Homo sapiens: one gene and its partners. The protein of the gene in region 1 purifies or fractionates together with the protein of each later gene. This does not show direct contact. Each region holds a gene or a part of one and is shown in the gene's direction. Other genes may lie near its edges.

The links.
Region 2: the proteins of ZNF423 (region 1) and KLHL2 purify together in Homo sapiens (affinity purification with mass spectrometry; one large-scale study listed by BioGRID and IntAct). This does not show direct contact.
Region 3: the proteins of ZNF423 (region 1) and RXRA purify together in Homo sapiens (pull-down; one study listed by IntAct). This does not show direct contact.
Region 4: the proteins of ZNF423 (region 1) and NMD3 purify together in Homo sapiens (affinity purification with mass spectrometry; one large-scale study listed by BioGRID and IntAct). This does not show direct contact.

Annotation. Positions count from the first base shown.
Region 1 is NC_000016.10:49,639,415-49,643,743, reverse strand, and holds part of ZNF423 (zinc finger protein 423), read left to right. Parts: intron 1-3,243; exon of another isoform or gene 3,244-3,301; intron 3,302-4,329. UniProt on the Homo sapiens protein: Transcription factor that can both act as an activator or a repressor depending on the context. Plays a central role in BMP signaling and olfactory neurogenesis. Associates with SMADs in response to BMP2 leading to activate transcription of BMP target genes.
Region 2 is NC_000004.12:165,311,523-165,315,851, forward strand, and holds part of KLHL2 (kelch-like protein 2), read left to right. Parts: coding exon 1-43; intron 44-1,406; coding exon of another isoform or gene 1,407-1,429; exon of another isoform or gene 1,430-1,554; intron 1,555-1,715; coding exon 1,716-1,844; intron 1,845-2,503; coding exon 2,504-2,644; intron 2,645-4,329. UniProt on the Homo sapiens protein: Substrate-specific adapter of a BCR (BTB-CUL3-RBX1) E3 ubiquitin ligase complex that mediates the ubiquitination of target proteins, such as NPTXR, WNK1, WNK3 and WNK4, leading most often to their proteasomal degradation.
Region 3 is NC_000009.12:134,430,767-134,435,095, forward strand, and holds part of RXRA (retinoic acid receptor RXR-alpha), read left to right. Parts: intron 1-1,138; coding exon 1,139-1,230; intron 1,231-3,335; coding exon 3,336-3,441; intron 3,442-4,329. UniProt on the Homo sapiens protein: Receptor for retinoic acid that acts as a transcription factor.
Region 4 is NC_000003.12:161,230,482-161,234,810, forward strand, and holds part of NMD3 (60S ribosomal export protein NMD3), read left to right. Parts: intron 1-2,917; coding exon 2,918-2,998; intron 2,999-4,245; coding exon 4,246-4,329. UniProt on the Homo sapiens protein: Acts as an adapter for the XPO1/CRM1-mediated export of the 60S ribosomal subunit.

The DNA of each region.
Region 1 (4,329 bases):
GCAGGATTAGTCATTTTTAAATGACTTTAATCTCCATTTTGCAAGTGTGTGTGTGTTTTTTTAACTCATTTTTGTTATAGTTCTTTGATTGCATTTACTCTGGGGGGCAGGGGAAGCATGGGTCTGTCATTAGTCATTGTACTTCCCACTTGATTTTCTCATGCTTCTCCTCCCAAAGTGGGGGGTGGGGGGTAGTGAAGCCTTGTGGGTGAAAACACTGACTGAACAGGACTAAGGGGGGGTTCACATCCTGACTCTGCTGCCTGCTGGCTGTGTGGCACTGGGCAAGTCACTCAGTCGCTCTGTGCCCTGGTTTTCTCATCTGTAAATGGAAATTATAACAGTCCCTAACTCATTAGCCTATTGAGAGGATTGAATGAGTGAGTACACATTAACTCTTAGAAGAATGCCTGGCACACAGCAAAATCGATGCAAGTATTTACTTGAAAATAAAAATGTAGCGACTGAACAGGACTTTCCTTGAACCCACCTTCTTCCTGAATTCTGGAATGTTCATGTTGGAGGGGACTTTGGGATTGCCTTGGCCACAGTTGCAGGTGTGTGTGTGGTGTCCAGCATCCAGCATGAGGAAAGTGTCATTGCTATAAGAGAGGAGAACCTTGGGCCAGGCGCAGTGACTCACACCTGTAATCCCAGCACTTTGGGAGGCTGAGGCGGGTGGATCACTTGAGGTCAGGAGTTCGAGACCAGCCTGGCCAACATGGTGAAACCCTGTCTCTACTAAAAATACAAAAATTAGCCGGGCATGGTGACATGTGCCTGTAATCCCAGCTACATGAGAGGATGAGGAAGGAGAATTGCTTGAACCTGGGAGGCAGAGGTTGCAGTGAGCCGAGATCACACCACTGCACTCTGGCCTGGGCCACAGGGCGAGACTCCTTCCCCTCCTGCCCCTGCCAAAAAAAAAAAAAAAAAAAAAAAGAAAAGAGAACCGCTTTCTCTGCTGACGCCCCTGTAGATACATCCCGAGCTTTGGCCCTAGCTTATCTCTCTAGCCTGTTTCTAGAGCACTGAGCTAAGTCCCCCCAAAGCAAAATGCATTTGGAGGGGGTGGGATGGCAGCAGGCGAGGTTGAATGTTCTTTGAATAAAAGACTTTAAACAGGGCAATCTGAGTTTGGGACTTTATATGTCAACATGCCCATTTTCCCTGATTGGGCCTTTTCAGTTTAAGGAGCCTTATTTTCATTTCAATTCAGATGATTATAATCTCAGCAGTGGCTCAGCTTGTTGCTCCCAGAATAATACGCTTTGCTTTAGTTTCAAAACTTGTTTGCAGAAAAATAAAGCCAAGCAGCCAGCCTGCAATGAACCTTGGGTACTCTGGTGCCGGGCAGGTTAAGATTCTCCTTTTCAAAGCCTACTGGGTGAATGACTGATGTGGGGCCTCGGGACCAGGTTCTGTACTCCTACAGGATGAAGTTTGGCCAGACACTAAATGGGGCATCTGGCTTGGTACTGGGGGCCAGTTCCTCACCTCCCTGAACCCCACTTCCTCATCTCAGAAATGGGAATGTTACTGCAGACAGCCAGATATGGTTGTTGTGAGGATGAATAGAAATTAATTGCGATAATAGACATACTTAGCACAGTGCTGGCACGTGGGACATTCTCAATAAATGGAGCTGTTAATATTGTTAGCACTTGTGGCACTAATTAGTACTAATTCTTATTATTGGCAAAATAGTGCTTTTGTTTAACAACTTTATTGAAGTATAATTTGCATACCATAAAATTCACTTGTTTGAAGTGAGCAACTCAGCCAGTCTTTGGTAAGTTTACAGAGCTGTGCAGTCTTCACCCACAGTCTAGTTTTAGACCATTTCCCTCATGTCAGAAGGATCCCTGTCACCTGTGCAGCCAGTCCCTGCTCCCATCTCCAGCCTCGGACAGCTGCTAACCTGCCTTCTGTCTCAGATGCGCCTTATTCTGGACATCTCATGTCAGTGGCATAATAGTGCTTTCTCCCATTAGTTTTTCTCATCCACTCCTCCCAGTGATTCCCTTTTTTCAGATGCGTAAAGTGAGTGGTTAAGAGGAATGTTCAGGGCATGGATGAATTCATAGAGGAGCTGGGAGGGCTCTGGCTCTGAGTGAGTGTCTTCTGGTCTTCAGGTGGTGTGAAAGGTTTAGGAGCAAATGAACCCTGGCAGAAATATCTGTTCAGGCTTGTCCTAGGGACAAGAGTGATAGTGGTTTCACCTGCCCAGTTGTTGAGACTTCTCCACACATCAGTTGCTGGGTGGGTTCCAGCCAGTTCCTGTGTCTCTCTGAACCCTGATGAGCCCCTCCCAGAAATGCAAATCATGGGCCAGCCCCAGCCCTCTTCACAAGGCAGGCTCCAAGGAGATCAAGTCCTGAGGACCCTGGAGGCTTTACACGTGGGCCTCTCCCCTTCTTACCCACGCAGGAGTGGTCTTATTTGACTGTTTGGCCCCCAGAAGCTGGTCCAGGCCCACATCACGATCAAGGGGCCTGAATGTGGACAGTCCTGGCATCAGTCTCTGGCACTGTCATTTCCCAGAGCAAGTCTCTGAGGCCGTGCCTCAGTTTCCTCGTCTGTCCAGTGGGAGTGGACCTGGCCACTCATTTGCAGTTGTGAGAAAGCACTTAGCACTGAGTGCTGGGCACACAGGAAGGGCTCAGTGGCAGTTTGAGTGAGTCTGAGTGAAGACATCAAAATAATAAGAAGCCAGTCCAGCCTGGCCTGGAGCGGGGGCCGAGTAGGTCCCCTGGCCCCAGCCATCTCCTCCCTGGGGTCCCTTTTGTCTGTGCCCCAGAGAGCCCAGCTGGCAAGAGCTGGGAATTGGCAGGCAGGGGCTGGGGCGCCTCCCACTGCATCTCATCTGGGGAGCTGGCCACGACTGCTGCATCCTTCCCGTCTGCCGAGCCCGTCATGTGAGGCCCCCGGGGGAGAAGGTGCTGGTGCTCTGGGAGGGTGTTCCAGGAGGCCCCTTGAGCTGGGCTGGGGAGCTGGGCTTCAGAGGTGGGTTGGCTGCCGGAAGCCTTGCAGTCGGGAGCTTTGGAGAACTGCGAGCTTCGGAGAGCCGCATGCATCCCGGTTGAGCTGTGCCAATGGTGCCAGGGGGGTCAGGTGGATCTTCACACAATCAGCGCTGCGGGGGCCAGGGGGTGGGGGCGGGGCCTAGGACCAGGCTCAGCCCCAGCTGTGAGGGACCCCTCAAGACCCCCCAATCAGCCTTTGTTCTCTCTTTAAGTCTTAGGATCGGCCTGGGACAGCAGAGGCAGCTTGTGTGGAGAGCCTTGTAGGGAAACCACAGGTCTGTGATGTGTGTGTGTGTGTGTCTGCAGGTGAATGTGTGTACATGAGCGTGTGCATGTATATTTAAGTTTGTGAGTGATAGTGTGAGTGTGTGGGAGTGATGGTGTGAATGAATGTGTGTGATGGTGGGTGTTGTGTGTGTATGTAGGTAGGCGTGTGTATGCGCATCTGTGTGCCAGTGTTCACCCGTGCTGGGAGCATGGTGCGCCTGCCCCATCCCTTCCTGAAGGTCTGGGCTGCCTCTGGGCCAAGGTTACGTCTGGGTTACGTCTGTGAGGCTCTTCTGAAGACTCAGCCAGGCTGGCTGGCGGCTGGAGAGGCGGGGGCAGTGGTTTATTTCCTCGGGGTTACAAGAGCAAGGTCAGCGGAGCCGAATCTGAGCTTTTGTTTGTCTCTCCCCTGCCCGCAGCAGCCTGCGGTCTGTTTCATTCATTATTAAGTTTTAAATCCAGCCGAAGAGAAACTTGAGCCTTGGAACTCACTCCCTGCCCGGGCTGGCTCTGCTCGGCCCCCGCCGGGGAATGTCTCTAGCTTTATTCACTGTGTCCTGTGTGCCTTTGTTTTCCCAGAAACGGCCTACCCTTAGGTTTGTTTAGTTTTCCTCTGAGGCTAGCCGGGCCAGCAAACGAGGGGGGTTGTGGGGGCTGTCCCCAGGGAGGGTGGGACTGGCTGGAGTCTGTACAAGGATTGTCTCTTCCTTGCCTTTGCAGTGGGGTTAAGGGTCCGCCTGGGTCTGAGCTCTGTGGCCTTCCATGTCCTCATTCATCCTCCAATCACTGTCACCATCTCTCCATCTGTCTTGATCCTGGGTGGGGTTGGGGCAAATCCAGGGGTGCAGTGGGAACAAAGAAAACAAGGGTCTCAGGATGGCCTGGGCCAGGAAACCCACAGATGCCTCTTCAGTGCCCTAGGTTCCCTTCCCACCTGAGCACTGAAGTCTGCTGTCTCTTGCCCTGTGATTTCACACCTCCTATGTCTTGTCTACCACCTGAAGCAGCAGCTTCCAGCTCCATCAGTCCACCCATA
Region 2 (4,329 bases), on another chromosome or scaffold:
ATGAATACAAGGAGGAGCAGTGTTGGTGTGGGTGTTGTTGGAGGTAGGTGTTGACAGTTCTTTCAGGTACATGTGGCATTTTGATCCTTGAGAGTGGTTCTTCCAGTAATCTCAACTTTAGTTTTCTGAATGGGCAAGCTAATTATCATTTTAAAAAGAAAAGTCGTAATTACTGTAAAATTTCAGTTATCCTCTTTTTAAAATTAGCTTCTCTATATAAATCAACCTATATAAAGCCTTTTCTCTCCCTCTCTATCCCCCTCCCTTTATCCCTCCTCCTTTCTCTCTGTGTGTGTGTGTGTGTGTGTGTGTGTGTGTGTGTGTTTGACTTATATAACTGTGTGTGTTTGACTTATATAACACGTGTGTGTTTGACTTATATAACAGCAGTCCCCAACCTTTTTGGCACTAGGGACTGGTTTTGTGGAAGACAATTTTTCCATGGACAGGGGTGGGTTGGGGGGATGGTTTTGGGATGAAACTGTTCCCACCTCAGATCATCAGGCATTAGAGTGTCATAAGGAGTGCACAACCTAGGTCCCTCAAATGTGCATTTCAAGATAGGGTTCACACTTCTGTGAGAATCTAATGCCGCTGCTGATCTGACAGGAAGTAGAGCTCAGCTGTAATACTTGCTCACCTGCCGCTCACCTCCTGTTGTGCAGCCCGGTTCCTAACAGGTTCCAGACAGGTACCGGTCCATGGCCTGCGGTTTGGGGACTGCTGCTGTATAAGACTGTCAACTGATTTTAACAGTTGCTTGGGGGAACAATTCAGGTGACATAAATGTGTAATTTTATATCTGGAGAAGGGCTGTTAAGGGATGGATTGCCACAGTTATTTATTTATATCCTACTTTGTCTCCCAACAGAAGTTAAGGAAGGCTCTAAGTATTATTATTATTATTTTTTTTTAATTGACTTGGGCAAATTTGCAGGTTTCCACCCCCTCCTCATCGTAGGTGTAATCTGTGCACTTAGAAAAAAACAGCTTTATTGTGATATAATCCACATCATACAATTCACCCATTTCATGTATACAGTTCATTGTGCATCCATCACTGCAATTCATTTTAAAACATTTTTATTATCCTCTAAAAGCAATCCTGCTTCCCTTGGCTCTTACTCGTATCTTACCCAACCTTCAGCAACTGCTAGTCTACTTTCTATCACTTAGAGATTTGCCTCTTCTGAATATTTTAGTCATACAGTATGTGATCTTTGGTGACTCACTTCTTTGGCTTAGGGTGATGTTTTCAAGATTTGTTTATTTATACTGAGGCATTTATTAGTACTTCATGCCTTTTTAATGCCAAGTAATATTGCATTGCATTCTGTTATTAATTTTTGATTTAACCTTTTTTCCGATTTCCTAAGATAACTTTGGTATTTAATTCTGTCTTACAGGATGTTGTTCACTTATCAAATAGTGTTACCTAAAGATATAATGAGTGTGCTATTTTATCAGATTATTGATGAAAGTATAAAATTAACATCATCAGCTATACCCTGCAGATCTTCATAACATGATTTGATTACCCCATCTGTCACCATTAGGCAAGACCCTAATATATTTCATAAAAATCAGCAGCACTTTAAGGGGAAACTCTGCTGCCATGAAGGAAAATATATTAATATTTTCTGGCTTGAAAAATTAGTGTTTTTTGTTTGTTTGTTTTTTAATAAATTTGGCTTTCTATGTGATTTTATGTGTAGGTTTGCTCTATGCTGTAGGAGGTTATGATGGAGCATCACGTCAGTGTCTTAGCACAGTAGAATGCTATAATGCTACAACAAATGAGTGGACCTATATAGCAGAAATGAGCACCAGGCGGAGTGGAGCAGGTACATGTGAACCTGTTTTAGCAACTGAAGCACAAAAATGATGGAAAATAGTTAAAGTAAAATGATTCAGTGGCATCACTTTACATTATCTGAAAATATATGATATGCTGATTTTAGTGGCACTGCTAAATGTCTTTTGAATTGTGCAGGTAATGGGAGTAATTACAAAGTAATTTTACTTTAAAATTTAATGTCTAAGTGCCATAGACATTTCTGTTTCATTTATATATTCAAGTTGTTAGCACTCCTTTTAGTTTTTTGTTTTTAGTGCTTATTGGGGAACTTGCTTAATAATCAAGTCTTTTCATGTATATTTCTTAAAATTTTGTGCTTTAATATGCGGTTATTTTACTATGGATATTGTTTTCAAAAGGATTACATTAAAGGACTTTTTCCCTCCCTGTGTTTCACCTACATGTTATTAATATTTTTATTCTGTTTGACATGCCTCTTTTTTCAGAATAATAGTTTGTTGAGATGCTTATTTAATCATCAATTGTATTGATTTCCATTTCTTAAATTGTAGGCTATAGTATCAGCTTGCTTTTATTATGAATTATAACTTCGAAAGTTTTAGTTACAAGTCATTTAAATAAACCTAATATGATATAAATCTCTTGTTCTTTTTGCCCCTCTATTTGGCTGGTTGTGTTTTATAGGTGTTGGTGTGTTAAACAATTTATTGTATGCTGTAGGAGGTCATGATGGCCCTTTAGTACGAAAAAGTGTTGAAGTATATGATCCCACCACTAACGCATGGAGACAGGTTGCAGATATGAACATGTGCAGAAGAAATGCAGGTATCTGTCAGTTTAAGGTTATAAAACTTATGTTGAATTTTATTTTAAGTTTCACTGGTATCACTCTATCAATGAATATCAATGGTATTTCCATTGTTCTTTTACTGATCTGGGTTCCCTGATAGACTCTGAACTCTTTAAAGCCAGAAACTTATGTAATAATCCTATAAAGTGAATGCCTGCCATAGTCTCTGGAACATAACAGGTTGTTGTGACACTTCAGTAAACTCATCATTTCTACTAGCTGCTACTTTTTGGTGATAAATGTGGAGACTAATTAAATTAGGTGTAGACCCTTTAAATGATACTGAATTCATTCATTCTTACAACAGATATAATTTAGTGCCTACTATGTATCTATCATACACTGGAGATCCTAGTTCTCAGGAAATTTAGTCTAGTTGAGTAGATATTTATACTAGGTTAAAAAGCTAGTTGATTATCTAAATCTAGAGGGGAAGTCTGCAAAGGTAACCCTAGCTTAATACAGTTCAGGATTTCCAGAAAAATGGAAAAACTAAAGCAACAACAATAACAACAAATAATTTTAAGAAAGTAGAGAACTTCAAGATTAGGGAACTAACCACTTAAAAAGAAGAATCAAGAAAGGGAAATACAAATGGAAAATAGACTCAAGATAGCTACATAGCCTTTCAGGAAATGCTAGGATTCTTCAAAATGCCATTATCTTCATGTCATTTCTCATAGTGTAAAATAAGTTCCTGGTGAGTCTCAAACTTACTGTACACCATTGGACACCCCCCTCCATCAGCGCTCATCTTAGTTTCTCTTTAAAGAAGGGTGATTACTAAGAGAGACTAAGTATGTGGAACTGCAGATACTGTTGGCAGCAGACCAGAATTTATAGTTAATTCTGTTTGGCCTTGCACGTCATCTAGTCAGTTGTATATGGTAATCAGTTCGTTAGATGGTAAGACCCTCAAATATGGGTCCTTAGTAGAATAAGTGACTCCAGTATACATTAAGTTAGAAAAGCCATGGTGATTTGTGCATGTGTCTTCCTGGATTAGGAAATTTAGTTGCAATTTGAGCTTTTTATGAATATTTTCTTAAAGGTTAGACTAATTTATTTTTTCTCTATATGTGTTTATTGTTTTCATATCAAAATTCACTCATTTAGGTAGAAGAATAAAGAGATAATTTGTATATATAGAGCTACCATTATCCTGTTCTTCAAAAAATTGTGTGGGAAAGGGTAGGATTTAGGAAAAAGACGTAAGTCTCTGTTGAAAAGTTGTTTCATATTTTGATTTAGACAACATTACTTGAGTTTATTTGATAATCAGGAAGAGAGAGAAATCTGAAAGCTTACTTTTCAGTTTGTTTTTCCTTCTCAATCAATGATGTTTATTTTCTATGCAAATAACAAAATTTGAATTATTTACTTCTATAATTTACAAGATACAGTATAATCCAATTGAGCATATATTTTAAAATTATTTAAGTTCATAAGAGTATTTTAAAATCTCACCCTCATTCCATATTCCTGATAATCTGAAACAAACTTCTGATAAGATCTGTTCAGCTCTTCCTTTTTAATAACCTAGGCTAAGGACCTCATCCAAGCACCTAAATTATTGGAAAGAAAGAACTAAGCTGGCAAAGAGTGGAGGACATGTATTCAATGTTAAGCGGGGAGAGGTGAAAGCATCCATATAAATTTG
Region 3 (4,329 bases), on another chromosome or scaffold:
GTCTGGCTGGTAGAGAGATGGCGATGACAGAGGTTTCAGGGTTACATTCTCTGGGGTCCCACAGCAGTGACTACAGAGGCCCCGGCATTTCCTCGCCTTTTTTGCGAGTGGAATGCAAAGTCTGCCCTCAGTGGCCCAGGTCTTTTCCATGCCCGCTGCCCCATCCCTCTGCAGCTGTGTGCTCCTGCCTCAGAGCAGACATCGGGGGTCCCTCCCAGCTCCTGTTCTGTCCCACCCTGTTCTCCAGCCTCCTTCAGATCTTCTTCCAGGAATCAACCAGGGCACTCCCCATTCTGCAGACCCTCAGGGCCGCCCTTGGCCCACAGGGGAGAGCCCAGGCTCCTTAGGCAACCATCCCCACCTGGTCACCTCCTTTCCCCCGCTGTGGCCCACCCTTACTTCCTGGACACAGCAGTTGAGCTTTGGGGTTGGTGGGCAGGCTGCTGAGGCTAGGGGGCCCAGTACACTGCAGAGGCTGGTGTGATTCAGAATCCAGCTGCAGGGCTGGGGCAGCTGAGTCTGAATCCAAGAACGCCCCCAGCGTCTCCATGGAGGGAGCTGGCGGGCTTTCCCCGTGTTGAGGCTGGTGGATTTTTTTTCTCTGGTGACAAGAAGTAGACATGCCTCCCTCTGGCAGCCCCCACCCAGGGACACCAGGCCCTGGGGAAAGGTATCTTCCTGGACTGAAGGGAGCGGCTGGGGCTGTGGCATGGGAAGGGGCTTTGCCTCAGGTGGTGCTGGGTCCACAGCTGAGGAGGGACAGTGGTGTGTCTCACTGGGTTCGGGAGGGGTGGACTCTGTGCCCTCTGTGCAGCTGCGGCTCACCTCAGTTTAGCTGTCACGAGGCCCCTCCTTAGCACCTCGGTTCCCAGAATAAAGCCCCGCAGGCAGACCCTAGAGGGAGAGGAGAGGAGCCCACCCTCCGGGCAGGGCCAGGCAGGCCTGGCAGGGGCGGCACCTGGGCCTGGGTTCCAGCCCACTCCCTCTCGGGGTGTCTGGGAGTCCTTGCCTTGGCTTGGCCCATCTCAGCGGCCCTCGGGCCACGCCGGGCTCTCCAGAGGCCTTGGGTATCTGGGGTGTGGCCCTGGTGAGGGCTGCGACCTAACTGGGATGGGGTGTCTGCCCTCCTCCTCTGCAGGGTGCTGACGGAGCTTGTGTCCAAGATGCGGGACATGCAGATGGACAAGACGGAGCTGGGCTGCCTGCGCGCCATCGTCCTCTTTAACCCTGGTATGGCCTTCCTGCCTTGAGGCTTCTGGCCCCGTTCTCTGGTGGGGCAGAGGTGCCTGGGCCTCCTCCTGGCTGTACTTCTTGCCTCTGGCTACATGTGGGGCCAACTCCCACCCTCCTTGAGCTCAGTGTGCCCCCCTCCCAGTGAAAGTGTGGCCATGCTGCCTTCTGCTCACCTTGAGGGCCAGCCAAGGGGGCATGGTCCCTGGGCACAGGGGGACCCAGCAAGGCAGTTGTCATGAGGGGCTTGGTGGTGCCGTCTGGGCTCCGCGGTTCATAGTGTTCATCACTGTGCGTCGGAATCCAGACTCCGAAAGTGGCCAGCTGTGGTTGTGAACTTCCGGTGCTGAAGTTCAGGAGTCCCAAGCCCTGCAGGCTGGGGATGGGTCAGGCCTGCCGGGTGTTCCAGAGGGGACCAACCTCATCCCCAAGCCTCGGGTCCAGGGTGTTTCTGGGGCTGGGCCCCTGTGGTTGAGGAGAGCAGGGCTTGGGGCTGTGGGGCTGGGGCTGGGCACAGGCCTCCTGGCCGACAGTGCGGCCCTTCTCCAGCCTCTGGGTTCTCGGCTTGAAAAGCCTCCTAGGTGCTACTCCTTCGCCCAACAAGTGCTGACACGTGCCTGTTTGCTCGGTGCCCTGCTGGCATGGGAGGGCCCCTTCAAGCTGCTGGATAGGGCTTGCCTGCCTAGAGCTTGGGGTTTAGAGGGTCACGCCCACCAGCAGGCACCCCCGGCACGTGAGGGCAGGAGCACGGTTGGTCGAGGGTGCGGGCCACTTCCTCCGGGAGCTGCAAGTTAGGGGCCAGGGGAGTGAGAGGCACGGAGGTGGGGTGGGCTGGTGGAGGCAGCCCAGGCAGGGCCTTGAAAGTCTTGCTAAGTTTGGGTTTTTTCTTGGGGCCACAGGGAGCCAAGTCCTGAGGGGTTCCAGCCGGGAGGGAGCTATGGGTTTCTGTGTTTGGAAACTCAGCTCATTGCGTGATAGGGGCAGGTGGCTGGGGTGTGGAGGGAGAGGTTTGGGGCTGCTGTGGGGAGCTCACTTGGGCTATGGTGGAGGGAGTGGAGCCCTCTCGGCTCCTGGCCCTGACCTTCTGACCTTGCCCTTTGTCAGACCTGGCTCTGAGGGACCGGGCCGGGATGGAGATGGGCATCTTCTTGTGGGGAGAGCTTGTTTCCAGGGTCATTTTATCACCCAGGCTGTGCATCCGGGCCGTAATCCTGCCAGCTCGGAGGCTGAGTCATGCCACGGCCCGGCCCGGCCCGAGGAATCCCCATTCAGGTCCTGTGTGGTCTGGTTGCTAGAGCTGGGGCACCAGCAGGACCTGGGCACCGGCTTGCAGGGAGGGTGAGATTGTCTGGCACAAGCAGGGTCCAGGCACAGGCTTGCAGGGAAAGCGAAGAGACCAGGGCACAGGCATGCAGGGAGGGCGAGGAGACTGGCTGGAGCGGAGGCAGCTGGGGGAGCCAGGTACGTTGCCAAGGAGCCCAGGACACAGGCCAAGGTGGCATTCACAGGGGGTCCCTGGGCCTTGGGGGCCAAGGTGGCATTCACAGGGGGTCCCTGGGCCTTGGAGGTTTTGGTGGCTGCAATCTTAGCCTCTCTGTCCACTCTAGGCTCTTGAGCCCGGGTCCTGAGCTCAGGACTCCGCAAGCACACCGAGGATGGGTTTCCGCAGGGTCTGGGTACTCCTGGGGGCAGCAGCGCTATCTCCCATCCATGTTATGGGGCTGGGACCCAAGGGCAGCAGCAGCATCCATTGTCTCTCCCAGTTCCCAAGGCGGCTGGAAGGAAGGCAGCAGATCCCTGACACTTTATCGATGGGGAAACCGAGTCTCTGGAGGTCAAATAGTTGACCCAAGGTCACGTGGCTGGCAAGTGGCAGAGCTGAGCCTGGACCCAGAGCAGCCTGGCCTGGCCGTGGGTTCCACAGTCGTCCCCCTGCCACCAGGCTCTGGGGGAGCGGGCGGAGGCATGTCCAGCGGCATTCCTCCACCACCTGCTCTGCCCATGGTGGGGCAGCCTGGGAGACCCCACACAAGCCTGGGTCCTGGGGGCAGGTGCCCGAGACACGCCCCAGCTGAGGGTTCTGACCTGTGGCTTCTTCCTTTCAGACTCCAAGGGGCTCTCGAACCCGGCCGAGGTGGAGGCGCTGAGGGAGAAGGTCTATGCGTCCTTGGAGGCCTACTGCAAGCACAAGTACCCAGAGCAGCCGGGAAGGTGGGTCCCGCCCCGTCCCACACACACCCCAGACCCAGGCTCTTGTCTCCAGAGCCCCCACCCCCTGCAAGGCCATTTTATGTGAATGAGAAGGTGGCACCCTCCCCAGGCCCAGCCCATGCCAGCAGGTCCTGAGCAGGCAGCAGGAGGTCCTCCAGGCCAGTGGGCTGTGGCGGGCACACCCCACAGGCCCACGTCGTATCCCCACTGGAAGGATTACCTTGCACCTGGCGCATAGTAGGTGCTTCTCTTTGTTCAGTAGATAGATGAAGGCTGTGCTTCACCCCCCACTGCGCTCCCCTACCAAGCAGAACCACCAGAGGCCAGGCGACACCAGCACATAGTAGGTACTTCACAAGCATGTGTAGAATGGATGGCCAGATGCCCACACATACTAAACACTCTCTACAAGTGTGTACGGAATAGGCGGTCACGGCCTGAGCGTAGCGCTCATGTTTCCCCCCTGCCCGGCTGTGGGCCCTGGAAGGGCTGGGGCTCCCTCATTTCTGAGTCCACAGTGCTGGGTGCACAGTAGGTGTCCAGGAAGAGAAACGTTTGTGGATCCCTGCCTGGGATTCAAAGTCAGCGCTCCAGATTCTGCCTCTTCTCTCTAAAGGGGCATCTCCTGGCCTCTTGATCCTCAGACTGTGGGGCGGGGAGGGGGTCGGGGGAGGTGGGGCCCAGCAGACCTCATAGGACACCCAGGCCTTCCCGCCACCAGCACATACACAGTTAACCGTGTCCCCGCTGCCTGCCCAGCCCTCATCTGGCTTGGTTTAAAGTGAAACTTCCCGGAGGACGAGGACAGGAGGGGGTGGCAGGCAGCTTGTTTTTCCTGGCTTTCTGCCCTGGCCCATCTCGCCAGCTCAGCAGAAAACAGCTTGTTCT
Region 4 (4,329 bases), on another chromosome or scaffold:
CTCTGGGAGTGTTAGAGTACGGAGGGAAATTTTTGTGAAATTGCAGGGAGAAGAATAATTGGCTGGGGGGTGGCCTCAATAAGTGGAAAAGAGATATAGTACATAGTGAAAGAATACATTTATTTGTTAATTCACTCCTTCATTCAACAAGTATTCAGCACTTACTCTTCACCAAGCACCATTTTGGGAGGCTGTAATATTTCATGGAACAAAGTAAAGATCTCTGCTCTCTAGAGGGGCATTCTGGAGGTTGATCTTGATGGGAGTATGGATAATTCATCTGTGGTAACAGCAGGGAAGGTGTTGAGTGGGAGCTTCTGGGAATTCTCCTCTGGTTCCTTCTTTTGTACTGGAGAAAACAGAAGCGTGGGCAGTAGCTATGTGGGAAGAGCTGTTAGATAGATGTTTGAGGAGAGAGCGGAAGATATGAAATAGTCCTCTAGAACTAGAGGAAATGCACCAGGACAGTGTTGGATGGGTGCTGGGCAGTGCTGAGGGTTACTGTTACAAGTTTAGACTAGTCACTGTGGTGTGCATCTATTTCTGTAGTTCTGTCAGCCACATAGTCAAGGCATAGAGCAGGCAGAGCACTGGATTTAACCAAATTTATAATTTAGCCTAGTGGCTAAGGTGAAATAAGAGAGGGAACAAGGAAATTGAGTGTGTACATGAGAATAATTTTGATTATTGATTTTGAAGCTAGTGAGGAGGAATGAGGAATAAAGTTGGTAGGATGAATGGATTGTCCATTATATTAGCTTGAAAGATATTTGGTGCCCAGGAACTAGAGGAAATAAGCTGGAAAGATGGGAGGTGGTAGTCAGGGAGTAGGATGTTTGGAATTGATAGTTTGGAGGGTTTGCAGTTACTGGTAATAGAGGCATATGAGTGACTGAGATAGGAAGGTGGATAATATTTTGGGAGAAGAAGAACTCAAAGAATGGAGTGAGAGGTCAGGGTATTGTGGGGATCACCTGTGTGGATATTGAAATCGCTAGGTATTAATATTGTTGGAAAGTGTGATGGTGAGCCAGAAGCTAAAATCTTTTGAGAAATGAAAACAAGTGATACAAAGATGAATAGATTACTATAAAAAAGAGAGTTGCGGGTGGTAGAGTCTAATGACTTTAGACTTAGAGCTGGGTATATTTGAGGAGGAGACAAGGAGAATGGTCTGTAATTAGCAATGAAGAGCAAGGACGATAGCTGTCTGGTGCCTGGTCCAGTGATAGGAAGAATCAGTTATCACTTTATATAGCTGCAGGGGAGAGAGAAATCAGGAGATCTAGAAGGTGAAGGGAATGTTCAGCAAAGTTGAGGATTTAGGAGATTTCATTGTTAATGAATGTTGAGCTCCGGAGGGCACAGTAGAAGGGTTTTAGGATTCGGGGAGGAGTGTTAGATGGGGACAGAATAGGGAATATGCATAACCATATGGAAATTGGAGTATGGGAAATAGGGGTGACTGAGGTGTCTGGGACTATGGTAAAGAAAGAAAGGGACTAATAAAGTTGATTAGTCATGGTTGTCTGAGGACACATAGTGCAGTGGTTGTGTTGGGGAATGCCGAGCAGGATGTCAAGGAGACTCTCCATTCCTGCAGGTGGAGGTTGGAGCTTGAGGGGAAGATCAGTCTTATTCAGTGCCTTTGGGGCTTTTTTTTTTTTTTTTTTTTTAACCACTGCTGATGGAGATTGAAGGAATAGGAATCTGCCTATCACCCTGTGTACCTGGCATCACTTGTTAACTACTAGGCTTTGTTTTAGGGAGGCCAGCTATATGAGGAGGGTTTTACTCTGGTGTGTTGAATCTTTGCATCTACACTAAAAGTGGCCAGTCTACTTTTTACCAGACAGTGCTTGATAAAAGTATAATCTGCTGCTGATACCTCTCAAATCTGTTAACTGCAGCCCAAATTTTTTTATAGATCTCCAGACCAATTGTATCTTACTGTTCACTGAAAAGTCCTCTTGGGTATCTCACAGATACTGTCTTAAACTGAAATGTCTGAAATCAAATGTAACATCTTTTTCTCATTATATCCATTGTTTATTTCGGTATAGGTAGTCACAAAAAGTGTACTGCCTAGTTGTCTAAGCAAATACTTGAGCATCATTCTGGAGTCTGTTCTCTTCCTCTTTTCCATATCCAGTTACCATTAAATCTTACAGATTTTTTTTCTGCATCACTTGGACTGTGCAGATAAATCTTACAGATTTTTATCTCCTAACTAGCCCTTGCATCTGCTTTTGTTATTTCCAGTGCCTCTCAGTTCAGATCATCTACAATCTGGCCCAGGTTATTACAGCAGCCTCCATTCTTGTTCTCCCACCCACCCCTTCTCCCCAAACACCCATTCTGGCCATTCTTGAGTTATATTCAGATCTTCACATATAGCAAACTGTTTTGGCCTATGCAGATGCTGCAGATTTAGTAGTGAGTTATAGTTGTGGATTTAGTATTCAGTGCATGCAACTTCTCTAATCAATGTCACTTCTTAAAAAAAGTCACAGAATATAGAGAGAATAATCCAAGTGGAAACTTTTGTTCATGAGGTTACTAATAAATAATGAGGTCACAAGGTCTTTGCTTTCCTCCAAAAAATATAATTTCCTTTTAAAGGACAATGTACTTTTTTTTTTTTTTTAAGGGAAAAGAATTTTTTTCCTATGCAAATACTTTAATTTTTGCTTAAATTATATCAGTTGCATTAATATAGTCATTGGGTTGTCCTTTGATTTGCTGCTGTTGTTACGTAACCAATGATTAATCTTTTTTTGTGATGATGGTGTGTAGTATGCTGATCACAGATTCCTTAAGCATCTTATGAAATCTGCTTATTGATGATTTGTTCTTTCGTGTTTTTTTTCCTCCTAGGTGAGAACTTACGTTTCTTTTTGTTTGTGTTTTATTGAAGGTACGGCTTGTAGATGCAGGCTTTGTTTGGACTGAGCCTCATTCTAAGAGACTTAAAGTTAAACTGACTATTCAGAAAGAGGTAAGCAGTACATAATTTTCTCAGCATGGTTAAAGTGCAGGTAGTGAAAATGAAGACCCAGTGATAAGTTATTTTATGGCTTGAACAGCTTAAAAGAAAAAGAGTACACTCAATTTTAGCTGTTTGTTTTCTTTTGAGCATCTGTACAAATAATTAGATCACTAGTAAGAGTAGTCATTGCTTCTGATTAGCAGACTTACTTTTCCAGAGTTATTTTTATTAGGAAAGGATTGAAGTAAAAACATGGTCTAAGGTACTGATCCTCAAACTTGGCTGATCATTGTAATGACTCATCATAACTGAAGCAAAAATTCTCTGTATGTGAGGCCGGGAATCTATAAGTAGGTTGAGTATCCCTTATCTGAAATGCTTGGGACAAGAAGTGTTTCAGATTTTGGATTTTTTGGATTTTGGAATTTTGCATTATACTTAACTGGTTGAACATCCCTAATTCAAATACAAAATGTTCCAGTGAACATTTTCTTTGAGTGTCATTTAGAAACTCAAGAAGTTTCAGATTTTGAAGCTGAAATTTCAGATTCTGGGTTTTTGGATTTGGAATGTTCAATCTGTATTTAAAAAGCTTCCCATGTGATTTCTGATCAGTTATGTTTGGGAATCATTAAATTAAGGAATTTTTTTTTTGAGAAGTTTTCCTTATTTTTTTCTTCTAAGGATGATTTTTCTATGTAAACATGTATAGGCTGGGCATGGTGGCTCACACCTGTGATCCCAGCACTTTGGGAGGCCAAGGTAGGCAGATCACTTGAGCCCTGGAGTTCGAGACCCCATCTCTACTAAAAATACAAAAGTTAGCTGGACGTGGTGGTGTGTGCTACTTGGGAGGCTGAGGTGGAGAATCACTTGAGCCCAGGAGGCAGAAGTTGCAGTGAACCAAGATCGTGCCACTGTACTCCAGGCTGGGCAACAGGCAGAGTGAGACCCTGTCTCAAAAAAAATTATATATATATATATATATGTAAAATATACACAGAATATTCTCACAACCACTTCAGCTAAAGGAAAATTTGAAATGCTAATCTAATAAATCTTAGGAATTAAATCTGTATACCGTTCTTGAAATAGTATAACTTGTTTTTATGACTTTAAATTTGAGGACATTTGATTGATGTCCTCAAAGCATTAATGGAAAAAGTTTTAAATTAAATATTAAAGGTTCTTCTTTAAAGAAAATATTTGTTATTAAACAAAACCAAAAGAATGAAGGAGTGTAATTGTTTTATCAGGTGATGAATGGTGCTATCCTTCAACAAGTGTTTGTGGTGGATTATGTTGTTCAGTCCCAAATGTGTGGAGATTGCCATAGAGTA